7 linked regions of the Homo sapiens genome follow. The protein of the gene in region 2 purifies or fractionates together with the protein of the main gene of each other region. This does not show direct contact. Each region holds a gene or a part of one and is shown on either strand. Other genes may lie near its edges.

The links.
Region 1: the proteins of SNRPA1 (region 2) and SNRPD1 purify together in Homo sapiens (affinity purification with mass spectrometry; 6 studies listed by BioGRID and IntAct, with this or other methods). This does not show direct contact.
Region 3: the proteins of SNRPA1 (region 2) and CDC40 purify together in Homo sapiens (affinity purification with mass spectrometry; 5 studies listed by BioGRID and IntAct, with this or other methods). This does not show direct contact.
Region 4: the proteins of SNRPA1 (region 2) and SF3A1 purify together in Homo sapiens (affinity purification with mass spectrometry; 8 studies listed by BioGRID and IntAct, with this or other methods). This does not show direct contact.
Region 5: the proteins of SNRPA1 (region 2) and RBM17 purify together in Homo sapiens (affinity purification with mass spectrometry; 5 studies listed by BioGRID and IntAct, with this or other methods). This does not show direct contact.
Region 6: the proteins of SNRPA1 (region 2) and SNW1 purify together in Homo sapiens (affinity purification with mass spectrometry; 6 studies listed by BioGRID and IntAct, with this or other methods). This does not show direct contact.
Region 7: the proteins of SNRPA1 (region 2) and SF3B4 purify together in Homo sapiens (affinity purification with mass spectrometry; 5 studies listed by BioGRID and IntAct, with this or other methods). This does not show direct contact.

What each region holds. Positions count from the first base shown.
Region 1 is NC_000018.10:21,621,960-21,625,824, reverse strand, and holds part of SNRPD1 (small nuclear ribonucleoprotein Sm D1), read right to left. Parts: intron 3,101-3,865; coding exon 3,024-3,100; intron 2,078-3,023; coding exon 1,886-2,077; intron 1-1,885. UniProt on the Homo sapiens protein: Plays a role in pre-mRNA splicing as a core component of the spliceosomal U1, U2, U4 and U5 small nuclear ribonucleoproteins (snRNPs), the building blocks of the spliceosome.
Region 2 is NC_000015.10:101,280,942-101,285,545, forward strand, and holds the end of SNRPA1 (U2 small nuclear ribonucleoprotein A'), read right to left. Parts: intron 4,120-4,604; coding exon 4,026-4,119; intron 842-4,025; coding exon 783-841; 3' UTR 569-782; downstream 1-568. UniProt on the Homo sapiens protein: Involved in pre-mRNA splicing as component of the spliceosome. Associated with sn-RNP U2, where it contributes to the binding of stem loop IV of U2 snRNA.
Region 3 is NC_000006.12:110,228,729-110,232,593, reverse strand, and holds the end of CDC40 (pre-mRNA-processing factor 17), read right to left. Parts: intron 3,763-3,865; coding exon 3,618-3,762; intron 2,641-3,617; coding exon 2,463-2,640; 3' UTR 362-2,462; downstream 1-361. UniProt on the Homo sapiens protein: Required for pre-mRNA splicing as component of the activated spliceosome. Plays an important role in embryonic brain development; this function does not require proline isomerization.
Region 4 is NC_000022.11:30,346,660-30,350,524, reverse strand, and holds part of SF3A1 (splicing factor 3A subunit 1), read left to right. Parts: intron 1-3,865. UniProt on the Homo sapiens protein: Component of the 17S U2 SnRNP complex of the spliceosome, a large ribonucleoprotein complex that removes introns from transcribed pre-mRNAs.
Region 5 is NC_000010.11:6,095,530-6,099,394, reverse strand, and holds part of RBM17 (splicing factor 45), read right to left. Parts: intron 2,348-3,865; 5' UTR 2,330-2,347; coding exon 2,207-2,329; intron 1-2,206. UniProt on the Homo sapiens protein: Splice factor that binds to the single-stranded 3'AG at the exon/intron border and promotes its utilization in the second catalytic step. Involved in the regulation of alternative splicing and the utilization of cryptic splice sites.
Region 6 is NC_000014.9:77,751,039-77,754,903, forward strand, and holds part of SNW1 (SNW domain-containing protein 1), read right to left. Parts: intron 443-3,865; coding exon 281-442; intron 1-280. UniProt on the Homo sapiens protein: Involved in pre-mRNA splicing as component of the spliceosome. As a component of the minor spliceosome, involved in the splicing of U12-type introns in pre-mRNAs.
Region 7 is NC_000001.11:149,924,777-149,929,229, forward strand, and holds the start of SF3B4 (splicing factor 3B subunit 4), read right to left. Parts: upstream 3,028-4,453; 5' UTR 2,984-3,027; coding exon 2,950-2,983; intron 2,519-2,949; coding exon 2,390-2,518; intron 2,143-2,389; coding exon 1,600-2,142; intron 1,267-1,599; coding exon 1,060-1,266; intron 1-1,059. Other genes in the region: MTMR11 (myotubularin-related protein 11), read right to left, coding at 4,353-4,453. UniProt on the Homo sapiens protein: Component of the 17S U2 SnRNP complex of the spliceosome, a large ribonucleoprotein complex that removes introns from transcribed pre-mRNAs.

The sequences.
Region 1 (3,865 bases), on a different chromosome or scaffold from region 2:
GCTTGGCTAACACGGTGAAACCCCGTCTCTACTAAAAATACAAAAAATTAGCCGGGCGTGGTTGCAGGCGCCTGTGGTCCCAGCTACTGGAGAGGCAGAGGCAGGACAATGGTGTGAACCCGGGAAGCGGAGCTTGCAGTGAGCCGAGATCGCGCCACTGCACTCCAGCCTGGGCGACAGAGTGAGAGTCCATCTCAAAAAAAGATTTCGGCTGGGCGCGGTGGTTCCTGCCTGTAATCCCAGCACTTTGGAAGGCCGAGGCGGGTGGATCACTTGAGGTCAGGGGTATGAGACCAGCCTGACCAACAGGATGAAACCCCACCTCTACTAAAAATACAAAATTAGCTGGGTGTGGTGGCACACACCTATAATCCCAGCTACTTGGGAGGCTGAAACAGAAGAATCGCTTGAACCCAGGAGGCAGAGGTTGCAGTGAGCTGAGATCCTGCCACTGCACTCCAGCTTGGCTAACAAGAGCGAAACTCCATCTCAAAAAAAAAAAAAAAAATTTTTTTCAACAAAATTTTAAATAGAAAGTAGACTGGGAACTGTAACATTTAGTAAAGGAAGAATAACTTCTGAAAAATCTAAGATTCAGAAGCGTGGAGTAAGATGATATGAGGCGGGGGGCTTTCAATCATCAATTCCCCGACAGGTAGGTAGGTAGTAAAAAAAAAAATGTAGAATAACCCTAACGACATTAAAGCAAAACATCCTCAGATTTGAAAATACAGCCAGCCTTCAATATCCATGGGTTGCACATCCATGGATTTAACCAACTGAGGATCAAAAATGTAGTTTAGGCCTATGATGGTTGTATCTGTACTAAACACATACAGACTTTTTCTTGTCATTAACGCCTAAACAATACAGTATAACTATCTACAGAGCATTTACATTATACTAGGTATTACAAGTAATCTAGAGATGATTTAAAGGGTACAAAAGGATGTGCACTGAAACACTACTACCATTTTATGAAAAGGGACTTAAGAATCTGTAGATTTTGGTACCCACAGGGGGTTTTTTTAAAGTGGAAAGCAGCATGAGATAAAGGACCGAGAGAGAGATTAAATCATTGTTTTTCAAGCTATGGATTACAATCATATATATATATATATATTTTTTTTTTTTGAGACAAAGTCTCACTCTGTAGCCCAGGCTGGAGTGCAGTGGCGTGATCTTGGCTCACAGCAACCTCCACCTCCCAGGTTCAAGTGATTCGTCTGCCTCAACCTCCCGAGTAACTGGGACTAAAGGCACGCACCACCACGCCTGATTTTTTTTGCATTTTTAGTAGAGAGGGGGTTTCGCCATGTTGACCAGGCTGGTCTGGAACTCCTGGCCTCAGGTGATCTGCCCACCTTGGCCTCCCAAAGTGCTGGGATTACAGGTGTGAGCCACCCTGCCCGACCACATCGATATTTGTTGTTTGGTTTTTTTTTTTTTTGAGACAGTGGCTCTGTCACCCAGGCTGGAGTGCAGTGGTGAGATCTCGGCTCACTGCAACCTCCGCCTACTGGGTTCAAGCGATTCTCCTGCCTCAGCCTCCCGAGTAGCTGGGATTACAGGCACCCGCCACCATGCCCAGCTAAGTTTTATATTTTTAGTAGAGATGAGGCTTCACCATGTTGGCCAGGCTGGTCTTGAACTCCTGACCTCGTGATCCACCCGCCTTGGCCTCCCAAAGTGCTGGGATTATAGGCGTGAGCCACTGCGTCCGGTTGCTCAATGTTTTTAATAGCAACACCAAGAATTACTATACATACTATAGGAAATATTAAACAACAAAGACACTTGTGTTGTTTGCAAATAATATCTATATTATGAATAGTGTGGATTAGGATTAGCATTCACAAAAATGTTTATAATCCTTCAAACTTACCAGCTTCCCTTTTCTTAGATTTCACCTTAGGTTCAACATCCACAAGTAGTGTATCCAGAGGTAAACTGTCTGGTAGAATAAAATACCGAATGTTATTTCCTCGAATACTCAGCGTTTCCAGCTGTACAGGTTCTCTGTTCTTCAGGGTCATTTTCACAGCTTTAAGATGTGTATTCATGCTGACATCCACACCTAAAGAGGAAAATAATTGTGCAGTTATTAGTATGATACAAGTTAAGGCAACTAATTAATCTACTGAGCCACAGTAAATACTGGACTACAAAAGATTACTGTTCTTCTACAAAGTGCAAGTTTTCTATGACACAATTTAGCACATGTGCAACTGGTAAATGGGGGAATGTCAGCAGTGTTTCCTTCCTAGAGATTTTTCCTAGCACACTAATGTTTTGCTTACAGAAGTGAATGCAGCAAGCCATGGAAGAACCCTGACTGGGCTTTAGGCTCACTACTGATGTGACAGGTATTTCTTTCATGTTTCTCCCACTGTCTTTGTAACTTCCTCATAATCCCCATTCCACCAAACTATCCTCACCTTTGTTTCTGCTTCTCTCTGTATATAAGAATTGTTACTGCTTTTGTTAAGATGGATCATGAGGTCAGGAGTTCGAGACCAACCTGGCCAACATGATGAAACCCCGTCTCTACCAAAAATATAAAAAATTAGCTGGGTGTGGTGGCACGCACCCATAACCCCAGCTACTTGGGAGGCTGAGGCAGGAGAATTGCTTCAACCCGGACCCGGGAGGCAGAGGTTGTAGTGACCTGAGATTGTGCCACTGCACTCCAGCCTGGGTAACAGAGTGAGAATCCGTCTAAAAAAAAAATTTACCCGGGCATGGTGGCAGGCACCTGTAGTCCCAGCTACTTGGGAGGCTGAGACAGGAGAATTGCTTGACCCCAGGCGGCGGATGTTGCAGTGAGCTGAGATCGTGCCACTGCACTCCGGCCCAGGTGACAGAGCAAAACTGTTTAAAAAAAAAAAAAAAAAATTACATAATTCAGACAAAAAAAATAAGGATTTGTACTACAATAATGTTCATTAAGCAATAAAAAAATAAACTCTGGCTAGGTAAAAGAGAAGAAAAAAAATGTTATAAAAGCAGTCCAACCTCCGTACCTGTGATTGTTCCATGGACCTGTGTTCCGTTCTTCAATTCAATGGTTACAGTTTCATGACTCAATTTCATCAAAAATCTATAAATAGGAATAAAACCATTTTTACCTGTAACACTTTAAAATCACATTTATTAAGGTGAAAGGGTGAAACAACTCGATGTTGAAAATTTGCTAGATGCTATCTGCATCAATTCCTATCAATAATCTGCATAACAATTTCAGCTTTCCTGAATTATATCCTCAACCTTTATGAAGGAACACAACAATACTAACATAAACTGTCATTTGGACGTTTCTAATTCTCAAACCTGAAATCCAGACATACAAGATCTTAGACTCATTATAAACCATGAAAAAGAAATAGGCCAGGCGTGGTGGCTCACGCCTATAATTCCAGCAGTTTGGGAGGCCAAGGCGGGCGGATCACGAGGTCAGGAGATCGAGATCATCCTGGCTAACATGGTGAAACCCCGTCTCTACTAAAAAATACAAAAAATTAGCTGGGCATGGTGGCGGGCACCTGTAGTCCCAGCTACTCGGGAGGCTGAGGCAGGAGAATGGGGTGAACCTGGGAAGCAGAGCTCTCAGTGAGCCGAGATCACGCCACTGCACTCCAGCCTGGGCAACAGAGCGAGACTCCGTCTCAAAAAAAAAAAAAGAAATAAAGAATTACAGTCGGTAAAAAGATTACAAGCTTATTATAATGCCTATAAAGTAAAAATCTCCCTTCCTAACCCCCTGCACTGTGGGTATGTAGGAATATTATTCCAGATCACTTTATATGCATTCAGAAGGATATATACAGATTTCTTTTGACATAAATTGGGTCATATTTTATTCACG
Region 2 (4,604 bases):
CAAGCTTTTCACAAAAGTATATGCAACAAGATGGGATTAAGACTGTCGTGGCTAAGGGGGATCAGAGAGATGGCAATGAAACAGTAGTGTTCTTCAAATATGAGTAACTTACGCCCCTTTCAACAAATGTTCTTGTAGACTCTCCATATGACCTTTATGTTAACTATGTACATATATAAAACTAAAGGCTGGGTATGGTGGCTCAGGCCTGTACTCCCTTGGGAGGCCAAGGCGGGAGGATCACTTGAAGCCAGAGTTGGAGACCAGCCTGGGGGCGGGGGAGAAAAAAACAAAAAACATAGCCAGGTTTGGTGGGACACACCAATCAATTTCAAAAATGGAATCATTTCAGTTGTCCTATCAGAAGCCGGAGCGACAGGTAAGTCTGCACTAACAGAAGGGCTATGTGGGAGTGGAAAAGGCGGCCTTCCTGGCATGTGTCATGACACTGCAGGAGCCAGACGCTAATCCAGCCCAGGAAGCCTACCGAGAAAACGCTGCCCTCCTGCATTTCCAATTTCAACGTGTCCTTAGACCTCACTGCAAATGCACCATGATGACACACAACTTGGTAGCATAGTGAGTGGAGTTTATTTTTATAATTTGTAGAAAATTGACATTTAGATTTCAAAACTTATATTACAAAATTATCAGCAGCAGTCTTAAGCATTTCAACAATGCTGATAGATTCCACTTTGCTAACACAAACAAGGCTATTATACCATGTTCGAAAAGCAAGACTTGTTCCAAGAGGGCCTATTATTATACATCTGCCTCACTGCTCAGGACCCGTTTGTGACTGTGTCTTCTTCCATCTCTTCTTCACCATCATCAGTGGGCCCTAAAGAAAACCACCAAAGCAAAAGTAGTATCAATTTTAGAGAATCCATTCCCTTAGCATGCAAGTGTTTGTTCTGTGGCCACTGTTTGTTACACACTGAAGTAGGTACAAAAAGATCAAAAGCAGCACCTGCCTTTGAGGAGCTTATCGTCCAGGGACGGTCTAGTCTGTCTTTGGCAGGTACTGGAAGGGATGCTCAATTTCAAAGGAAAAGGGTCACAAAGATTTCAAAATTGTTGCCTCCCATTGTAGTTGATAATAATTCATTTTTGGTGAAGGTAAAGCCTATACTCATGTGCTTTTCATGGCACTACCGTAGGCAAAGAAACCGGAAATACTCAAAAACATCTGGGCACCTACTACATGCCATATACTGGCAACAGTTCAATGACTTTATTGTCTCTAAATTAGGGAAATATGCCAACAACTACCAAAAAATGTTACATTTGTTCAACAATTTATGGCAGGTATTTTGCTCAATGTATTCCAGGGGGAAAAAAAAGTTGTAACTCCTTCAATTGTTTGGGAAACAATTGTTATTGTTGACTTAATGTCTGACTTAACATCAGTCAGCTGAATTATTGTATTGGTTTCATCATTCCATCCTGTGCAATACGGCATTTTGATTGACGGGCATGAAGAAAATCTGGCCACACAGGCACACAGTTAGAAAAGGGAGGAAGATTTTAACAGCCTGTGCAGATAATGGTGGATGCTCTTTTTAGATACTATGCTAAAACTTGACAAATGGTAGCTTCCTCAAGGTTAGATGGCAGTGTAAAAGTCTGAAACCTTATCAATGAACTTTTCATACTCTTACTTGGTTTATCTTGTACTTTGAACAAATCTTTTACCCGTACATGATTTCGTATCATTTGGAAAACTGTGGTTCACCGACTTTTGCAGATCTTCCAAACGTTGAGCCATGTAATTACACATCAAAAATGTCACACCCATTAATTCACATGCACATAACATTACTATTGAGTTCCCCAGAAAAGTCTTAAAGTACTGGGAAGCTGGCAGGTTACGGCAGTGGATACAAGTTTTCTAAATTTTAATTTTTGCTTTAAACCTTGAATTTTCAATTGTTTTCCCTGAAGTGACAGGCTCACTTCATCATGTTTGAGAAGACAGGTAGCTGCCTCTCAACTGAAACAACTGCACCAGTGCATGGAGATAACCACCTAACTCAAGAATGCAGACATGTGCACCCCCTTTCTGTCACCCAGAATATCAAAGAGACGTGTGCCCGAGGAGTGATATTTAATTATCTTTACTGCTGCATCCAGGACACTCTTAAGTGAAACTGGTATGCACGCTACTGGGAGTGCAGAGCAGGGAAGAATGTAACAGCTATTATTTAGGCTGCTGCCTTGACTCCTACTGAGGTGCCCGCAGTTCTACCCACTATTGCTCCATCAGTGCAAATGTTCATACTAAAGCAAGTAACACCTTGGTGTTATTAGATGAAAACAGTCTTCGGCCAGGCGCGGTGGCTCACGCCTGTAATCCCAGCACTTTGGGAGGCCAAGGCGGGTGGATCATGAGGTCAGGAGATCGAGACCATCCTGGCTAACATGTGTTTTTAGTAGAAACCCTGTCTCTACTAAAAAAAAAAAAAATACAAAAAGTTAGCCATGCTTGGTGGCGGGCGCCTGTAGTCCCAGCTACTCGGGAGGCTGGGGCAGAAGAATGGCATGAACCCAGGAGGCGGAGCTTGCAGTGAGGTGAGATTGCACCACTGCCCTATAGCCTGGGCGACAGAGCGAGACTCCGTCTCAAAACAACAACAACAACAAAATCAGTCTTCACCTTACAGACTCCCAGAGGCCCACAAACCATACAGTAGAGAATTACTGGTCTTAAAAAATTTCTTTTTGGCTGGGCACGGGGCTCACGCCTGTAATCCCAGCACTTTGGGAAGACGAGGCAGGTGGATCACGGGGTCAAGAGATTGAGACCATCCTGGCCAACATGGTGAAACGCTGTCTCTACTAAAAATTAATTAGCCGGGCACGGTAGCAGGTGCCTGTAATCCCAGCTACTTGGGAGGCTGAGGCAGGAGAATCGCTTGAACCCGGGAGGCGGAGGTTGGCGTGAGCCGAGATCGCGCCACTGCACTCCAGCCTGGGCAAAAAGAGCAAAACTCCGACTCAAAAAGGAAAAAAATGTCTTTTTAATTTTTAGCTCCCAGCTCAAACATTATTTCCCTAGGAAACTTCCCCAAGACGGCAGTCTGAGTGGCTGTCCCCAGTTACATTCATATCAAAACTTGTAAGACGTATTTCAGTACTTTTTATCTTATATCCCTAGTGCCCCACATGCAGCCTAGCATAAAGCAGGCATTCAGATGTCAGAACAGTTACCACTTATCAAAAACTCGCTAATGTTGAGCCTTGTGCTGTGTTCAGTCTCTCAGCCTCTCGGCAACCTTTTGAGGTTTGCTACTATTGTTATCTCAGATTTAAAGATGAGGAAAGACTTGAAGAAACTTGTCCAAAGGCAGAGCTGGTGAAGCTGAGATTTGGGCCTCGGACTGCTTGGCTCTAGAGCCTGTGTTCCTAACTACTGAGGTATCATGCACACACGCAAATATATATAGGTAAAAGTCCACATGGCTATCGCTAGTGTTCGGTGCACTCCATGGCTGAAGTAATTCTAGCTTCAACTTTTACATAAAACCCCCCACAGTGCTGTAACTTAACTTTCTTCATGAAATACCTTTTTTTTTTTTTTGAGCTGCAGTTTTGCTCGTTGCCCAGGCTGGAGTACAAAAGTGCGATCTCGGCTCACCACAACCTCCACCTCCCGGGTTCAAGCGATTCTCCTGCCTCAGCCTCCCGAGTAGCTGGGATTACAGGCGCGCACCACCACCCCCGGCTAATTTTGTATTTTTAGTAGAGATGGGGTTTCTCCATGTTGGTCAGGCTGGTCTCGAACTCCTGACCTCAGGTGATCCGCCCGCCTCAGGCTCCCAAAGTGCTGGGATTACAGGCGTGAGCCACTGCACCCAACCCATCAAATACTTTATCTTCAAAGAGCATTTAAAGAGATTTCATATATTAGATTTGATGTAAGGAGGCACTACTCTGGCATTCCAGAGTCATGGCATCTAAATGGTTGTGAGTTACACTCTGAGTGTAACATTAATTTGAACATACAAAGAACACCATTTGTTCACCTGATCTGCGTTCTCTGCCAGGGATCTGACCAGACTGCAGCAACCCCTTCAGCCTCTCCACTTCAGCCAGAGTTGAAGCATTTGCTATGGCATTCTGGAGGACAGAGGGCAATGGAGATGGATGATTAACTTCAACCAAGTATCAGCTACCCAGAAAACTAAGTGTCAATCACCTACAGAAATTCACAGCAACTTCTCCATCAGGAACATTAAATACTTTGGTGTAGGGGGAAGAATGTTATTGGCCCACAAAAATAAAACTAGAAGCCAAACCACAAATTTCTAAAATTGGTGAAGAGATGCAGGCCTTCTTATAAATAATCACTCCACATGTTCTAAAATCGTAGCTAAGTGAAGTAACTATTTGCAATTATGTTACTGAATAATTTAAGGAGGCAATATTATAAAACGAGGGTCCCTACTGATCAGTCAAAAGGATTTGCCAGACAGCAAATCTTCGAAAGTAAAAATTAAGGCAAACACTGAGACAGCATACCAAGGTAAGTAACTGTTCGAAGTGATAAATGCACCTTGGAAAATGAGAAAGACAAAGCTGCCTCCACATTAATTAGCTTGTGT
Region 3 (3,865 bases), on a different chromosome or scaffold from region 2:
TGACAAAAAGGCTGCAATAAGGAAAAGGAGCCAGATGGTAACCACCTAAGTCCAGTAACAATGTGATCTTGAGACTTTTTATGCTGAAATATAACCCCACTCATTTATGTACTCTAAAATGTTGTGTAGTCATGACTTAGTGCCACCACTAAATGAATATGGAATGTGTTAATGTGCTCTGAGGGTACTGCCATGTATTTTATTATATAATTATAAACCCACTGATATACCTGAATAAACCACATCCACCTCTAAAGCATTATTTCTCTCCATATGACCCATTTAAAACTGCAAATGGCTTAATCTAGTGTCTCAATACACTTAAGACTCAAAAGGAGACTAAAGATGAACAAGATGAACATTTTGATAGCACTTTCTACAAAAAATGCTTTATTTAAAAATATGATCTTTTTAAAAAGGAGACTTTTATACACACTTACTTTAGAAACAGTCAAAAACACAACAGAATCAATCCAGATTTAGAAATGATGATTTGTAACATACAATATTGGTATGCTGAACAAGACAGTTTAAATGTATGATTCTTTTTGTCCCTTCACATTTCAATAATTCACATTTGTTAAAACTAGTGGTTGGGACTAAAGAAAAGGTCATATCTGAATCCTTTCCCCTTCAGAAATCTGTCACCCTTCTGGGCAGTTACAGAAATGGCAGCAGCTAGGCAATGTTTGTATTTCTTTGGGTGCCTCTGTGTCAAAAAATATATCTCCGCTTTTATTCTTTTTCTATGAAATTTATATTTATGTGGCTATAGGGCCTGGTCGTATGTCCCACGCCTTTTAAAATCTAAATTTCTAAAAACAGACACTCCGTAAGGGCAAGGAGCATACACTGCTATGACCTCACTGGACTCAGAGCTTAATGCTCTTAGGTTATCAGCAAGAGACATGATTTTGATCTTCCAGTTAGCACTCCAAGCTGCTATCAACCAACCTTTTTCAGCACGGTAGTGAAATATTTCAAACCATATTCAAACATCTAATATAGATTTATAATAAAACAGGAAAAATGGCTTGCCAAATTAAAGTGCTATGAGCTATTACATTCAAGAGGTTATCTTGATTTTATTTTTTGAGGTGGAGTCTCGCTCTGTCGCCCAGGCTGGAGTGCAGTGGCATGATCTCAGCTCACTGCAACCTCCACTCCTGGGTTCAAGCAATTCTCCCTGCCTCAGCCTTCTGAGTAGCTGGAATTACAGGCGCCAGCCACCAAGCCTGGCTAATTTTTGTGTTTTTAGTAGAGACGGGGTTTCACTATGTTGGCCAGGCTGGTCTTGAACTCCTGACCTCAGGTGATTCACCTGCCTCAGCCTCCCAAAGTGCTGGGATTACAGGCATGTGCCACCGCGTCCGGACTATCTTGATTTTATAATCTGATGTTTTCAAAAACTATTTTTCACCATGGCCACTGCTTCTCAAACTGGGGAACCCTAGCCATCTTCCAGGAGTGTCATTTTTTTTTTCAGACATAGAGGTTTAAAAATTTTTTAATCTTAAAAAGTTCTGTTGTATATATTCACAGGTAAAATAAGAATAATTTTAAAGATAAAACATATGACTTCAAAGAAATTACAAGTTGACATCTTGGACTCTACCCCTCGTACTTTATCTCCTATGAGGAGGATTTCAGTAATCACAGCTGCGAAGCAATGACCTAGGAGATCCTGATTTCTCAAAGCGTAGCCAGGTCTTTACTGACAGTGAATGTAAATACAATTCAAAGTCTTGGTGCATTCTCCTGAGCTCCATCTTCAGATATAATGTAATTCTCTGATTAAATATATATAGTCCTGTCTATACTGATCAGGAATTAAGTCAACAAAAGAACTCTGGACTGATTTTGATTTTTCACTGTTTATAATTAGAGGAATGCTACAGTTAAAGATTACTGCTTTACAACTAAAAATATACAACATATATCATCAAAGGGAGTGGAACTCATGAAGCCAAAAGATTAAAACTTGACCCAGTGAAAATAATAGGGAGAGTAACTGTGGGTGATTTTATCCTTCTTCCAAATTTACATTAAAATATATTATCCCTATTCTTTACTGCCCTTTTGGTTGAAGAGGTAAATACATGCATTTTTCTGAATAATTAATTATAACACCTCCTCTAGAATCCCAAATCCACTAGGGATTCTTTCTTGACCCCAAAGAGATGCTTTCAGTATGTCATGAGTATAAACTCAAACTGCTTGCCAATTATAACTACTTGTCAAATAGAAAGTCAATAGCCACTTTCTGTATAAATAACATTTATAAAAAACAAAATGAAGTTGCAAATGAAATTATGTCAAATTTACAGTTTCTTTTTTTAAACAAAGGGTCAATGTCATCAACATTATCTGTAAATCAAGTTATCATCAGATACATTTAATAATTAAATATAAATATGACAATGGATCAAAAATGATCCCAGCTAGTTTAAGGATTAATCTCATTAATCCCACAATTTAATGAGACCATCCCAACCACATGTTATGACCTTAGAAGTTTCATGAGGATGCCACACTGCACCTATACACACTTTATCATGAGCTTTAAATCGACTGTAGAGTTTTGTGGTCTTCCAGTCCCAAATGTTTAATTTTCCATTTCCATCTCCTGAAATCACATAACTATAATGGGAAGAAAGATAAATTCAAATTATTAAAATACCTTAAATTGGTAAGGCGAATGAGGAATAGGGACGTTATCTTTTCACGTTAACATTAAAAAAAAAATCCAATGCAAATATACAATACTCAGAATAAGATGGTAGAACATGAAGCAGTCTATAATTTGAAATTCTATTAAAAAAACCTCCCAACCAATCTAAGAGTAGAAAATTATTTTTAACTGGGAAGACTGGGAGTCCCAGGAGCCACAGTGAATGAGGTTACACAATCAGTCTCTAGATAGTCAGAAACAGAGACTGGAGAACCAATTCCACATATAGCTAGGGAACACCTTTAGATCTATTCTATCACAGTAGGCTCTAACACTTTCATAATTACTTTTTGGCTTTAATATCTTTTGAATACATCTAAGACTGAATCAGAGGTAGGCCCAATTACTAGGCTAAACAAACAAAGTTACTGGGATTTCTAAATTACTTCTGCCTATACATTTTAACTAAGAACCATGCTGTAGGCTTCACAAATCCAGTGTGACCTAGAAATATTCAAAAGCTGGATTTGAGGTTTCAGCACAGACAAGCTGTAGTGAAGCTGTAACTGCAACACTGTAATACACAATTAATTCTTCTGGTGTTCATTCAATCATAGCAATACAGTGATTATAGCACTTCTAGTCTTGCTTAGAAAAGCAGAGAAAATAAGGCATTGGTTATATAGACAGGGATTTATTAGGTGGCTAAAGGGCATAAGCCTAAGTAATAGAAGGGAATATACTGAAGCAAGAACCTAAAAAAAGCAAAATGTAATTTTCCTAATTTGTTCTTGCCTTTATATCCAGCATTTTGACAATTTTGACAGATCATCGAGTTCTCATAAAAACATATTATGTGAGAGTGATGTGTCAAGTGTTATTTGTACAACAACAGTTTATATAATCATATTTGAATACGAGAATGGATTAGAAGATTTAAACTTACCTCATGTCTGGTGAAAAGTCCACCTGACAAGCATAGCCTGCTACCATATGGCCCTTAAAAATTTTTTTCTTATTTAATCTAAATCTGTTCTGTGCTCCAAAAATTAAGATTTGGTTGTCCATTGATTGGCATGCTAGCCATTTTCCTGTAAATTCAATAAATGAGGTATTTTAGAGGAAGACTAAAACAATTTTTAAAACTTTTTATTTTAAATATGTTCACTGTGATTAATATAAGTTTTGCTCCCA
Region 4 (3,865 bases), on a different chromosome or scaffold from region 2:
TGTATTTTCCTTAGAGGAGGAGGTTTCCAACATTTCTTTTTTAGAGACAGAGTCTCGTTCTGACACGCAGGCAGGAGTGCAGTGGCATGATAACAGCTCACTGCAGCCTTGAACTCCTGGGCTCAAGTTATCCTCCCACCTCAGCTTCCTGAGTAGCTAGGACTACAGGTGCCTGCCACCACACCCAGCTAATTTTTTTTTTATTTTTTTTATTTTTTTTAGTTTTTTTGTATAGATGGGGTCTTTCTGTGTTGCTCAGGTTGGTCTTGAACTCCTGGCCTCAAGTGATCCTCATGTCTCAGCCACCACAAGGTGGCTGGGATTACAGGCAGTGACCACCGCACCTGGCCTGTTCCCAACATTTCATTTTGGCAAATTAAGCTGTGGGGAAATCTCTGAGCATTTTCTTTCCCTTTTAGATCGTTTCCTTAGAAGAAAATTCTGTGTGGCTCATTATTGGCTAAAAGAGCATCCTTAAAAGATTTCTTAAACATTTTGCCAAGTAGCTTTCCAATAATTTTGTGCCATCCTCTGCTGCTAAAGAAATAAGAGGATATCCAAGGTCCCTTTAAATATATATGACCAGGTTAGGTGGCTCACGCCTGTAATCCCAGCACTTTGGGAGGCCAGGGTGGGAGGATCGCTTGAACCCAGGACTTGGACACCAGTGTAGGCAATATAGTGAGACCCCTGTCTCTACAAAAAATAAAAAAATTAGCTGGGCATGGTGGCGCATATCTGTATTTCTAGCCACTTGGGAGGATCACTTGAGCCTGAGAGGTCAAGGGTATGATCATGCCAGCGTACTCCAGCCTGGGGCGATAGAGCAAGACCCTATCTCAAAAAAAAAAAAAAAAAGAAAGAAAAAAATCCAAAACCATGCACATCCCTAGATTGATTTTTAGCTATGGTGATTGCTTTTGTAGGCATTTCTAAAATCTGTGAGCCAGTGTGGTGGCTTACACCTGTAATCCCAGCACTTTGGGAAACTGAGGTGGGCAGATCACCTGAGGTCAGGAGTTCAAGACCAGCCTGGCCAGCATAGTGAAACCTCGTCTCTACTAAAAATACAAAAAATTAGCCAGGTGTGGTGGCGGGCGCCTGTAGTCCCAGCTACTTGGGAGGCTGAGGCAGAAGAATCGTTTGAACCCGGGAGGCAGAGGTTGCAGTGAGCCAAGATTGTGCCACTGCACTCCCACCTGGGTGACGGAGCGAGACTCCGCCTCAAAAGTAAATAAATAAATAAAATCTGTGAACTTATCGTTTACATTGCAACAAAGAGACCAATATCCGAGTTAAAGCAGGCATGCAGAACTCTGTGCTTCACTTCTCCTGGGTTCACGTATATTTATGGAGCATGCAGTAGAAATGCACAACTGAGCGGTTTTCCAAAAGTTTTTTCGCTAGGTTAGGCCTTTTCATTTCCTGCATGTTCCTGTCAAGAAACTGAAGTGGAAATTACCCTTAAAAAGTCCCACCAGCTGGGTTGAGTCAGAATCATGTCTTTTTCTGTTGAAATCTATTCCTTCTGGTGGAGAGTATGATTCTAAAATTAACGTTAAGCTAATTTAAAGCAACTGAATAGCTTGGAATGAACATGCCAAGCCTTCTCATTGTTTTATTTTTCAGATTGTTCCCAGATGGGGTAAAGTTATGGCTTAGGCAGTGGTACAGGAGACAACCAGGGCCCCTTTTTCCAGGAGCCCTTTGTCTGCCCGAGGCATTTGCTGGGTATAGTGGCCTAGTTTAGCAGGATTTAAGTGTGCATTCACCTTCATTCTTATGTGTGGTTTGCATTATTTAAGGAGTAGGGAGAATTTTTTTTCCAAAGCATGAGGTTCCAGTTAGACTAATATACTGTCAAATTGAGACCTCATGGTGTTAGTTACACGGCAGGGTATGACCACGACTTGCTGAGGAGCCAGCCTGGGTGTCGATCACTAGTGTGGCACATAATTGCTGTGGTGGTTGATCTGGGGCACAGCACTGCCTGTACCCTGTCTCCTGCCATCTGTCTTAAAAAAAATTTAAAAAATTTTTGTTTTCAGAGGTGAAATTTCATTTTGTTGCCCAGGCTTGGGTATGATCTTCTGGGCTCAAGTGATCCTCTCGCCTCAGCCTCCTGAGTAGCTGGGACTACAAGTGTGCGCCACTGTGCCGGGCTCCCACCCCCTCTTAAACTCACAGGCCAGGGATATGAAAGTCTGAAGAGTGGAGCTGGCTAGCTGGCACCAGATGCCGGGGCCATGCCTTGGTGTGTTTGGGGCAGTTCTAAGTACAAGGTTCTCGCCAGAGGAGCAATGGAAGGCCCCACAGACAATGTTTATGGAACAACCCCTCCTAGCCCCTTGCATTTGCAGGCCACTGTACGATTTGAAAAGACTTTGAGGGCTGGGTTCAGTGGCTCACGCCTATAATCCTATCACTTTGGGAGGCCAAGGCGCTTAAGCGCAGGAGTTTGAGACCAGCCTGAGCAACATGGTGAAACCCCGTCTCTACAAAATGTAAAAAAAAAATTAGCCGAGCATGGTGGTATATGCCTGTAGTCCCAGCTACTCAGGAGGCTGAGGTGGGAGGATCCCTTGAGCCCAGGAGGTGGAGGTTGCAGTGAGCTGAGATTGTACCACTGCACTCCAGCCTGGGTGACAGAGTGAGACCCTGTCTATAAAACAAAAACACTTTGGCATCTCCTCAATAATGTTTCAAGGTAGAAAGGGAAACTGGTGTTAGCTGCATTTTACACATGGGGAAATGGAAGCAAAGAGTAGTTTGGTAACTTGCTGTGGGTCAGAGTGAGTCAGCAGTGAACCTGAGACTTGAACGTGTTCATATCTTGTGTCTTTAAGGTCCGTGTACTTTCTGACTGACACAGGTGTTGTATATAAGTGTGGCACTTTGAATATTACTGTTGGGACATTTTAAAAATCAGGGTTCCCTAAACATCATTATAGGGACATTTTTTCATTATCCTGAGGTTTTGAAGGCTTGCTGGGGACATGGGGCATATCTGGGGAACCATCCCAGGTACAGACAGTGGTTGGAGACCTCCCTGCTGATCTTACCACACCCCTGTCATCTGAAGGTGCCTTATACAGCTGTACGAGTCTGGGTTTTTGCTGAGGATGTTTCCTGTGTGGGCCTCACCAGTATAATGGGGGTGGTTTTAGGGAGTACTTGGACAAGGCGTTAAACCAACTATTTGTTTTTTGTTTGTTTGTTTGTTTCTTAAAGACAGGGTCTTGCTCTGTTTTCCAGGCTGGAATACGGTGACACGATTCTAGCCCACTGCAGCCTCAGACTCCTGGGCACAAGTGATCCTCCCACCTCAGCCTCCTGAGTAGCTGGGACTAGAGGCACACACCACCATGCCCAGTTAATTTATTTTTATATTTTTTTGTAGAGTTAGGGTCTTTTCTTGTTGCCCAGGCTCAAATCAACTAAATTTTCATGTCTTTCAGTCTTTCTTGTTACTCAGAGGACAAAGTCTAGGTTTGGTGCTCATGTACCTTTTACACCTCTCCAGCACTTGCTACCCCTTTGAACTAAGAGAATTAGTCTCAGCAAACTTCCAGCTAAACTTTGACAGTATTACTTTGTTTTCATTATGTTCACTTTTGACTACCTTTTGTTGGTAAAGGCATACTGATTTTTTTTTATTTGAAGTAGTAATATGTATTCTCCATCTTAAATAGATTTTTTTTAAAGTAAATTTTATTAAAAGAAATGAGCGATAGCCTAGATGGTTTTGGAAATGGCAGAACTGGAAAAGGAGCTAAGGAATGACTGGGTTCAGGGAAACCCTGTGGCAGAGGTGGCCTGGTTCAAGCTGAATGAGGCAGATGGCACTGATCGCCAATGCCAGGAA
Region 5 (3,865 bases), on a different chromosome or scaffold from region 2:
TTCAAATTTTCTCTACCAAATAAATACCTTTACAGGTTTGGCTAGGCCAATCTAGTATTCTGAGTAACTAAACAGCCTAAGAGAATGCAATCTTCACTTCCCTTAAAAAAAAAAACCCACAAAACTAACTGTACATAGCAATCTCAAAAGTTTTATAAAGTTAGTAGAAATAACTTCACAAGCTACCTCAAGTTTTAAAAATCTATATGAGGCCGGGCACGGTGGCTCACACCTGCATCTTCCCTGCAAAGCAAAAGTTACATGAAATCTACAAAGATTTTATAAATGTACTTTTAAAAAAAATTAAAGAGAAAAACGAGGTTTTGCTAACCCTCCTTACATTTGGAATGAAACCTTGTTTTAAAAAAAACACAAAATACTGGCATCCAAAAAATCTAAATTTGGTAATGATGAATTTTAAAAACACAAAAAAACCTCTCTACAATACTGAACAATCAAATGTAAGCACTTCCATGTAAGTATCTATTGATGTGGTAAAGGGAAAAGAAAAATGAGTAGAACTTTTAAGAAAAAAAACCTGTGTATTGGCCGGACACGGTGGCTCACGCCTGTAATCCCAGCACTTTGGGAGACCAAGGCAGGCGGATCACGAGGTCAGGAAATCGAGACCATCCTGGCTTACAAGGTGAAACACCGCAGGCGCAGTGGTGGGCGCCTGTAGTCCCAGTTACTCAGGAGGCTGAGACAGGAGAATGGCGTGAACCTGGGAGGCGGAGCTTGCAGTGAGCTGAGATCATGCCACTGCGCTCCAGCCTGGGCTACAAAGTGAGACTACGTCTCAAAAAAAAAAAAAAAAAAAAAAAAAAAAAACAAAAAACCTGTGTATTACGGAAATTTTCAAACATGAAATTAGAGATTAATATTAATTCTTAAGTCTCTACTATCCACATCCAGTTTCAACAATTATCAACTCATGGGTAGTTCTGTTCTTCCCTCCCTCCCCTGCCCGGGACTGAATTGTTTAGAAGTAAATCCCAAAAATGACATCATCTTATCGGTAAATATTTCAGTACACATCTCTAAAGTACTTTTTCTCAACTTTAATTACTGCCTCCCCAGCAAGGAGCCTTTGACTAAATTTTCTCCCGCACATGAAATTTTCACACCACAGATACACTGTGCACAACACGAGCAAGGTTTTTTCACCCCCAAAAAGACCAATATTCGCTCTGTTTGGGGGGATATAGCCTCCATTACGAATGCATACTCTAGAACATAAAGATCTCTAAAGTAGTAAACAAACCATAATACCATTCTCATGCCTACATTTTAATGGCAAATATCCAGTCGACAACTAGGTTTTTAATGTTTTACATGTTATTTCAAGGACATTGCCAATACCCAACATGTACACAACAGAAACAAAAGCAATCAGCATCCAGACTACCTATGCCTGACGCCTTCACAATCAACCTGAGCCCTCAATAAGTTGCACGCAGCAGCTTAGGTATTCTGTGGAGCTTCTTCCCAAAGTGCTGCTTCCAAACTACCTCCACCAAACCAGTAGGAATGCTACTTAAAAATTCCCACTCCTGGGGCTCCAGCCTGAACTACAGTTTACCAGAATATCAGGAGTAAGGCTACAAAATTAGCACCTTAAACAAGTTCTCACTCAATCTTAGACCTCCACTACTTAAGTTTGAAAAGCAGTGTCACTGCTGGTTCAGAGTACTGTTTTTTTGTTTGTTTGTTTGTTTGTTTTTGAATCGGAGTCTTGCTCTGTCGCTCAGGCTGGAGCGCAGTGGCGCGATCTCGGCTCACTGCAAGCTCTGCCTCCCGGGTTCACGCCATTCTCCTGCCTCAGCCTCCCGAGTAGCTGGCAGTACAGGTGCCCACCACTGCGCCCGCGGTGTTTCACCTTGTTAGCCAGGATGGTCTGGATCTCCTGACCTCGTGATCTGCCTGCCTTGGCCTCCCAAAATGCTGGGATTACAGGCGTGAGCCACTGCGCCCAGCCCCCGCAGAGTACTGTTTTTCTTCATTCCTACCCCACGAAATGTTCCTATTCCCAGGAGCCAGGAGTAGCAAAGTGGCCTTAAACTCCTCATTCCTCTCCCCCTACAAATGCTTAACACCATTTACCCAATACAAAGGCAGAAGAGCAAGCTGAAACCAAATTCCTTGTCATCCTAATGAGGAACCCACTCTGGAGGCCTCTGCTCTCATGCTCTGGGCTTGTCTTTACCTTTGCCTGAGTGAGAGCTGCCTTCTTCACCTGAAGCTGAGACTGCAGAAGTTTGAAGTTTTTGGACCAGCCTTCTGTTTTTGAGTCACTGGTCTCCACTCCTAGGTCATCGTACAGGGACATCTTTTCTTCAGTTTAATGCTGAAAGGCAAAAGGGGTGGGGATTAAAGAATGCACAATTCAATAAAGGCTTTTCATGTTAAAATAAGTATCATGAAATTTTAGAGGTAAAAGGTCCAGGACCTTTCAGCAACAGAGGCCCAGGCTCCTGGTACCATTAATGTAGGGCTATTCCTGATACATGAAGCTAGACCATGGATTATTTTTAAAATAAGCCTCTAAAATTCATTTTTCCATCTATAAGATCATGCAGTCAAGTGATCCATGAGTGAAATCCTTCAATGCTAGGGCACATAATGAGGTAAGAATTGGAACATTATTAATTACATATATCCAATTTTTAAAAAATTCTATTTATGTCAGTGCCAAAAAGTAGAAGCTTTACAAAAACACCAATTAGCAGGTTGATGTAGCACAATTAGCTACCCTTTTATAAAGAAAAAATTTAAACGTACTCCTAGGGAAAAAAATGACAGAAATGATCTCTTAGATGTGATTTTGTCAATTACAATTATCAAGGGGGGAGTAGACTGGTTACATCTTAAATACTCTGATTTCCTCATATCACACCAAGTGGAAATCTGTCATCTTTAATGATAGTGATTACAAAGAGACAATCAACAATCTGCATGTGAACGAGCAACACACAGCTTCCGTGCAGAACAGAGGAACACGTGGAAACAAAAACCGAGTCAGCAGGCGCAAAGCATGACATGCAATGCAGCATCGGCAGCAGGTCCCATGAAAGCCCAGCACTGCACAGACATGGATGCTGGGGTTTAGGGAATCAATCTGCCCAAGGCCACAGCGGAAGCCCCTTCCAACCCAGCCAGGCCAACTCCAGAGCCCTCGCCAGTGAACCCCAACTGCCACTTTTTAAAAAAAAAATCAACATTCTGAAACCCACCAACATAGCTTACTTCTTCAAATAAGAAATCAATCTCACAGACAGAAAGAGAACTTAATTTAAACAGAAACCCACAAATTGCAAGTAAATGCTTAGCACAGTAGTTCCCAGTTTATGGACAAATAAGTCTGTCAGTTCCCAGGGGGCCCATAAAGCATTTTCCCATGGAAACCGTGTTATTGAAAAGCCTAATTTGCTTGTGTTCTGTGGCTCAGGAGAGGAGGAAAATATTTAACACATACCCTCCTTAGGTCTGATTCGGCAAGCATTTCTCTTGAAGGTACTCTTACTTCTCAGCTCCCCCATTACAGGGATTCTAAGACCCTGCCGCCCCAACACCTTCGCTGATGTTGGTACCACACTGTGTGGAGTGGGGGACGGAGTGCACACCAACTTCTGTTCCCTCAGAAGAACTGCCCTGGTCTTAAGTACAGTAACTCCCTGCCTGAAGTCAGCACCCCAGAAAACTGTCACCACTTTTTAGTTTCTTCCATTCCTTCATACGTGAACCCTCAAATTAACTAAAACCTCTCCATTTTGATTTTTAAATGAAAGGTCCCCGCAAGGCCGTAGAGAAGCAGGGAAAGCAGACTGTCCAGGGGTATTGATGGCCGACTGCTCAAATGAATCAC
Region 6 (3,865 bases), on a different chromosome or scaffold from region 2:
TAATATAAAGTAACTGTTTTAAAATGTACTTTTTTCCCCCTTTAAAACAAGGTATTGCCACCCAAGCAAGAGTGCAGTGGCTCACTGTATCCTCAAACTCTTGGGCTCAGTCAAACCTCCTACCTCTGCCTCCCAAGTAGCTGGGAATATAGGTACGAGCCACCATGCCCAGCCACTGCTACTTTTAACATAATTCAAACAGCAAGAGATTTATCGTGTCCACAAAATTTAAAATGTTTCCTAAAATATTTATCATTCAGGGAAAACATGAGAGGATTACCTTGTCTTTTGACTGTCCTTGTCGAGCAATTGCATCATATTTAATTTTTCCTTCAGAATCCACCTGAATGGCCAGCGCATTCGACATTTTTTTCTTTCGTCCCATATCCAGTGGATACTGGGCCACATGGATCTCTGGAAAAGCACCTCCATCTCCAAAATCCTACACATTAGAAGTAGTTAAATAAAATAGTTAATCATCATTTGACATTCAAGATATATTCATTCATTCAACAAGTAATTGTTGAGTCCTTAGTATGCTAGATGCTAGAGATACAGCAGAGTTCCCTGCCTCTTGTGGAGTTTACATTCTAGTAGGCAAAGATATAAAAAACACATTCTTTGGCTTGTGATAAGTACCATGAAGGTAATATAAAAGAAAAAGACTGGGAAAAGGGGCTACTTTTGATAGGGTGGTTGGGGACAGCCTTTGTGAAGAAGTAACATGTGAGCTAAAGCCTGAATGATTAGAAAGCAGTCATGGGAAGACACACACACACACACACACACACACACACACACACACACCACACACACACACACACAAAGCATTTTCTAGATGGATCAAATAGCCAATGCAAAGGCCCTGCTGCAAGAATGAGCTTGGTATATTTTAGGAAATGAGAATTCAGTGGGGCTAACAGCTTAATAAGGACAGCAGAGCTTGAGGCACAAGTTACATGAGTAAAAAACACCAGATCACAAAGGGACTTACATGCTACAGCAAGAAAATGTGGATTTCATATATGCAGGACGAAACTAAGTAAAATGGCTAGGACAAGGCAAAATATATGTGTATATATTTTAGCATATAAATACATATTTTAGTGAGGAACAGGTAAAGCTATACTTGGGGCAGAAATATAAAAGATTTTTTCTTGGAATCAGATTTTATTAACATATTATTTATTCATTGTTATGTGAGAAGCAAATGAATACAATAGGAAGGATCCAGAAATGAGTTTACTACATTTCTACTAGTGATTATACATAATTATTTAGGAGAGAGAACTGAGACTGCTAAAGTAGAACAAGCTAAATAAAGTTTGCTGATGAAATGTAGTATTTTAAAAAGGTTTATCAAATAAACATGAGGATCAAGTATAATTTTTAAGTAGTTAAAAAAAATTCAGTAGTATTTGCTTAGTACACTTTAAACATGATTCACACATGTATTATCTCATTTAATCCTTGTAACTCTTTAACATCATTTTAAATGGAAACATTCAGGCTTAGAAAAATTAAGCGGTGTTCCTGAGATCTCATAGGTATTATATGCAGCACCTGAACCCAGATCTTTTGAGACTCCGAAAAGCTTTGTATTTTCTACTACTATGAAATACCTTTCTTTTAGCTCAAAACAGCCAAATGAGTACTATTAAGAAATAATAGAAAACACAAATTAAAATTAATCATTTAGAGGGGGTTTGATGGAAAAAAAAGAAAATATTCACTTTTACAAGACCTCTTTAAGTAATACTCCGTTAGATCTAAGATATATGAGTTCCTAAGTACAATATGCTTATTTGCTAAAGAGATGTTTGAAGTTTTTGAAAACCAAGAGAATAAAGCTGAGAGACATTTTCTTGTAAATGAGAAAGAGTTAAAGCATTCCTAAGATAAGTGCTTCCCGTACCCAAGCCATCAATCTGACACATGCTTGGATTTGCTAGAGTTTTTCAACTATAATAAGTACTTCAGAACTGTAGCTGTAGCATTATGTGGTCATTAAGCTTGCCAGAAAATCATAGCTTTTATTTTGAAAACTAGAACAAAATGCCTTCTTCCACAGAACATTCACTCCCCTCAAGCAGCATCCATAGCATTTCCAGATTAGCTAGCCATTTCAACTTGATTTTCAAATAAGTTGTTCTGTTTCACCAGGATATATGAAACCACTGATAGCCAAGTAAGAATCTAAAAATCTAATAGCAACCAAGTATCGTAATGCTGAAATGCATGGATGAGATTTACATTCTATGTAAGATGATGCCTGTCACCCTCATTGTGCAATGTACTGACAGACCAAACAATATTTATAATGCCTCAACAGAGACACTCAACTGCTCTATTAGATGATGCCAATCACTACTTTTTTGCCCCAGGTAAGACTCCTTGATAATCTTTCATCTTCCTCTGCCTCCCATAAATAACACTATCAGAGAGAACAAAAGCAACAAAAATCCCTTAATAATTGCAATATGACTGGCCTTCACACACCAGCATTCATAAGGACCAGAGGAAAGCTGACAAAAAAGCAACAAAAAGACCTACATGTGGGTTTTTTGGAATACATAGGACAAGATATGATCTAGTTGGGTGTTCCTCTTATAAACTCTAATAAAGAGTGTGGGGCAGGCGCGGTGGCTCACACCTGTAATCCCAGCACTTTAGGAGGCCGAGGCAGGTGGATCACCTGAAGTCAGGAGTTCAAGACCAGCCTAGCAAACATGGTGAAACCCTGTCTGTACTAAAAATACAAAAAATTAGCTGGATGTGGTGGCACGTGCCTGTAATCCTGGCTACTTGGGAGGCTGAGGCAGGAGAATCGCTTGAACCCAGGAGGCGAAGGCTGCAGTGAGCCAAGATCGCACCACTGCACTCCAGCCTGGGAAACGGAGCGAGATTCCATCCCAAAAATAAAAAAAATAAAAATTAATTAATTAATGTAAAGGATCCTGAGTAATTAGAATAGGTGCTGCCAAGGAAGCTTGTTCTTTTTATTTTTATTTTTTATTTTTTTTGAGATGGAGTTTTGCTGTTGTTGCCCAGGCTGGAGTGCAATGGTGCGATCTTGGCTCACCACAACCTCTGCCTCCCAGGTTCAAGCAATTCTCCCGCCTCAGCCTCCGGAGTAGCTGGGATTACAGGCATGCGCCACCACACCTGGCTAATTTTGTATTTTTAGTAGAGACAGGGTTGCTCCATGTTGGTCAGGCTGGTCTCGAACTCCTGGCCTCAGGTGATCTGCCCGCCTTGGCCTCCCAAAGTGCTGGGATTACAGGTGTGAGCCACTGCGCCCGACCGGAAGCTTGTTATTTGGCAACAAGCTAGAGATAGAAAGAGCTATTCCAGATGGTTCCTTCTCCCTCATTGCCTTCAAATCAACCAAATTTTGTCTTATACCCGCAAAAATATATTTAATCTATATATCAGATATATATTAACATTCTCAAATTAAAGGTAAGAAAACAGGTGAAGAGAAAGAAATCAGCAAAGGAAGTGCTACTGGAGTTTTCCCTGAAGGAAAGTTGTCTCTTCAGGGTTATGTGGTATTATCGGAGGGGAGGAGGAGGAGGAGGAGCCCAAATATGAAAACCACTTTCATCTCTCTTATCTTTTACTTTCCCATTATTTTCCGTAATTCCTGAATTTATAAAATATTAGTTTTCTTGTAAATATTTAATAGTTTGATATAGGAATAGACAAATGGTACAGTTCTCTAGTGACCACAAAGCAGTGATAGATAATAAGCAAAAAGAAAATGATACATCTTCTGAGGGAAATATACATCTTGAGAGCACATAACCAGAATTTCTATCACACTGACATTCATAATCAGAGGTTCTAACATTTAAATTTATGT
Region 7 (4,453 bases), on a different chromosome or scaffold from region 2:
AGTATGTTCCAGGAAATGCCAGTTAACTCAGTAATCAGGAGCAAAATGCAGTTATAGAAATGAGGGGCAGGGGCCAGATCATAAAGAGCTGTGAATGCTATGGTAATGAGTTTGGGTTTTACTCTGTAGGTCAAAGGGAGCAACAGAGGAATTCTGAGCAAGTGTGTGCACATCTGTGTCTTAAAAGACCTACACTGTGAAAGTAGATCAAAGTTAGGGAAAACTGGAGTCAAAGTGGCAAGAGATTACTACAACAAATTAAGTGTAAAATAATGAGGCAATGAGAGACTGAACTAGGGCACTGGCCATGGGGAGAGATGCCACTGATACAAATAAGACTTGGTATTAAGAGTGGGGTGATAGGGAGCAGTCAAACATAGCTCTCAGATTCATGAATTAAGCACCTGAAAAAAAAGAACACTAGAAGAAGAATGGATTTGAAGGAGAGGGATAGAAAAATGACGCTATCTATTAAGCAGCAGCATCAAGGATCTGGAATATCAACAGCTACGGACTAGAGATACAGACCTAGGAGGCATCAGTATATACCCAATTAAAACTATAGATATATGCAGAAAAGAGAAACAAGCACAAAAATCTAGGCACAAGTAGACATGAGTCTATCACGGTAGCTGAGATTAAGAAGTCAGAGAGAGGGGTGGAGGATCTAGAAAAGCAAAAGCAAAAAGAGACAAGAATTTCAAACAGGAGGACACAACTAGTTTCAAGTATATCAGAGGTCAAACTAGATAAGGAGCAGAAGCGTCCCCGAGATTTGGCAATTAGGTCACCACTTTGAGGTGGAGTCAGAGAAGAGAATGGAACTAAAGATTAAAGAAATAAAAACTGGCAAGTAGAGTCTACTTGTCAGAAAAACTTAAGAAATGGATTCAGGGTGGTAGATGTTAGAGAGCATTTTGTATGTTTTTATAATAGAATGTCTGAAGGAAAGGAAAACTCTGAAACTGTTACTGTTGAGGAACAAAGGGCAGCAGGGTGAGTGGTAACAGAGATGCTCTACCAAGCTCTTCCCTCCCTTTCCCAACAAAGCACACCTACCTGGATGGGGCATCCCACCCGGTGGGAATGGGTGAGGATGTGAGTGTCCATGACCAGGATGTCCTGCCCCTGGGGTTCCTGCCGATGGGGGGCCATGTCCTGCAGCCCCAGGAGGCATAGGTGGTGGGGGCATGGCTGGGGGTATCCCAGGTGGGAGGGCTCCAGGAGGTGGCACTGGGGGTGGGAAGGAGCCAGGAGGAGGCATGCCTATAGAGGAAATGGAAAAAGGAAGAGTTAATGGTAGTGAGGAGAAAATGTCTTTAAAGAGCCTGTCCTGATCTGGCCTCTCCAGGCAGGGTGAGCTCTTTCCCCCTCCTCCCAGTGCTCTAAAATCAAAAGCAATGTTAGAAAAGTCAACCAACTTCACCCTCCTAAAGAAACCCAACAACTTTCTTCTTCACCACTACCATCACCCCTCAGTCCTCTTCCCATCAACTCACTGACTCAATGTCCCCTGTCCCCCTTTCAGACTTGTTTTCTTCTTCCTCCTGACCCTCTCCCCCAACCTTAAGACAAACATATTTTAACCAAAAGCTTTACCTGGTGGAGGAAGCCCAGACCCCAATGATGATACCACAGGATTGGGAGCAGAGGGTGGAGGAGGTGCATCTGCAAACAGCTGATGAGGGCGATCAGCCTGGGAGAGCGGGTTCTGAGCTGCCAGAAGTCGTTCGGCTGCTGAGCCATGGCGCTCACCCTTGGAGTCCTTCTTGAAGGCATAAGATACGGTGATAGGACGGTTACAGAGGTACTGCCCATTCATGGCTTCAATTGCTGCATCCGAAGCATCAAATGAAGCAAAATTAATAAAGGCATAACCTTTGGAGTTGCCTGTGTCAGGGTCCCGCATAATTTTGGGGGTTTGTAAGATGACCCCAAAGGCGCTGAAAGTATCATAAAGCAACTTCTCATCAATCTCAGGGTCCAGGTTCCCAATGAAAATGTTGGCCCCTACATCCAGGTTTTTGTTGTGAGCTGATGCTTTGTTCACCCGTATTGGCTTCCCATAGAGTTTGATCATGTTCATGATCTTAATGGCATAGTCAGCATCTTCCTCACTCAAGAATTCCACAAAGCCATAGCCTGGAAAAGTGGAGAAGAGGAGGTTAACAACGTAAGTAAAGAGACTGAAAATGGGGTAAAATTCATCTACCCTCTAATCACAAAGAACAAGAAAGAAACAACATCACTTTACTTAAGAATGGTTCCAGAAATAAACTGAAGAGAGGCTTAAAAGAAAAAAATCTTTAGGTTGCTCATGTTATTCCAAAACAGTTGTGAATACTGCTGGGACCCTCCGGGAGCAATTCGCCCCTTGTCATGTACTCACCTTGGTGCTGGCCAGTGACTCTATCCTTTGGCATGTGGGTGTTGACTACTGGTCCAGCCTGGAGAAACAGTTCCCACAGCAGCGGTTCACTAACCTTCTCATCCAGGCCCCCCACGTACACAGTGGCATCTTGAAGGGAGGGAGCAAAAAGAGCAAGCGTGAGAGTGTAACGGGAAGGAAGGAAGTGATGGAAACATGAAGATGGAACCCAACCAGGGGAACTGGGGACCGCGGTAGGGGACAGGAGCAAAAAAAAAAGTTTAAACCCTTAAACTTCTCTCTTCCCAGGACTTCGGGAATCCTCTGAAGTCTAATTTAGTATTGTGAGTGGGTTTTTTTGATTTTTTGAGTGAGAAGTCAGCAGGGGACCGGACTTAAGTATCACACCCAGAGGCCTCAGCCAGCACCCGGCCACCCCGCCCCCAACAGGCAGAGGGCCGGTCTCGCGCCCTCTGGGGAAGGGAGGAGTCCAGTCTCCCACCCCTGCAGAGACACTGCTGGCTGTAGTCGGGGCCTCCTAGCCACGCTGAGCCCATTCCAGACTTTCCCCCTCCAGTTACCCTGATTCCGCTCGGAGATCGGCCCGGCAGCCATGGCGAAAGAGATCCCGCCGTCTCCCAGCAGCGGTTCCGCCTTCTGACCTCAGCACGACTTCCACTTCCGGGGCGAAGACGGACGTAGCGGTGGGCGGGGCCGCGGAAGAGGAGGTGCCTGGAAGCGGCTGCAGCCATCTTAGGAGCCTCCGAAACTTAACCTGGGTCGGGCGGTAGAGTCCTCGGCTCGCGTCCTGAGGTGCCGCTGCTAGTTGTCTTAGCGAGGAGGGCGGAACGGAAACGCTCAGGCCCTCTTAATGCACTGCTAGACTTGAAAGAATCACACTGCTCTCAAAAGTGTAAATTCGAAAGCTAAAAGAACAAAAATTTCAGTTTTAATATATTTTGTGGACAGTGATTCTTCTTCTGTTGTCCAGAGAAGGATGTGCTGAAGAGTTCCCCCCAACCCGAGGACTTGGGGGCTTTCAGGCGCAGAGGGAGCCTTCCCTCTCGCCTGCAGCCTTCTTGCAGATTTGGCCTCACAACCCTGATTTGGGCTGGAGGTATTTGGTTTTCCCTCAGGGGAGGAGACTGCGAAATGTCTGAGCTTAGAGTGACGTCTGCGCTCACCTCGTCCTAATTGCATGGGGAGGGTGAGGGCTGCTCCGCGTTGGTGTGTGACCACAGCTGAGGGGTGGATGGGATCGGAGCTCTAGAGTCTGGATCTCTAGAACACTCTGGCCCCATCTGCCTCTAAATGGGAGACACACACAAGAGAACCCTTTCCCCAAATTGCACTTGAATTTTGCAGAGCCTCACCAAACCCAGTTCCCCTATTTCCTTAGCAATAATATGGTGGATGCCTTCCTCTCTTGGGTCATACACCCCTTTTACCCACCACTTTCCTACCTAGGAGAATCCTTTATTCAAACACAAGAAACAATGCCAGCAATGTGTATAAATACTATGCTTTAATGAGCCCCTTAAATAGAAATTCCACTACAAAAATACAGAGGAGATAGGGTGTTTCCTGTATCCGCCTCATTCCCATAGAAAACTATAAGGGAAGAAATAGAACTTGGAATTAAAGCAGCAGCAAGGCGAGGTGAGAATGCGATTTCTAGGCCATCTTGTTGGGACTGATGAACAGCATCTCTGATCTCATGATTTAACATCTGGTTATCCAGAAGGGATGGGATTGGCCTAAAAAAACCGATCAATTTCTGGATTGTTTTTGTTTCTTAATCCTTCAAATGACAAGAAGCAAAAATATTTGTAGAAACTAAGCAAGACAAGAGTTGGAGCAGTTAACACCACTATCTGCAGCAGAAACTCAGACCTTCTTAGTGAACTTAAGGGCTGAAGTGTGAAAGCTGAGGCTGCAAGTGCAGATACAAAAAAAAAAAAAAAAGATTAGACAGAACCCTCCTCTACCCCAGATCCCCCTCTGCCCTGCCTTTGAGAATGCCAGCAATTTCAGTGGGATTGAGAATGGTATGTGGATCTCTTTTCTTGGAGTGATCCTCAGGAG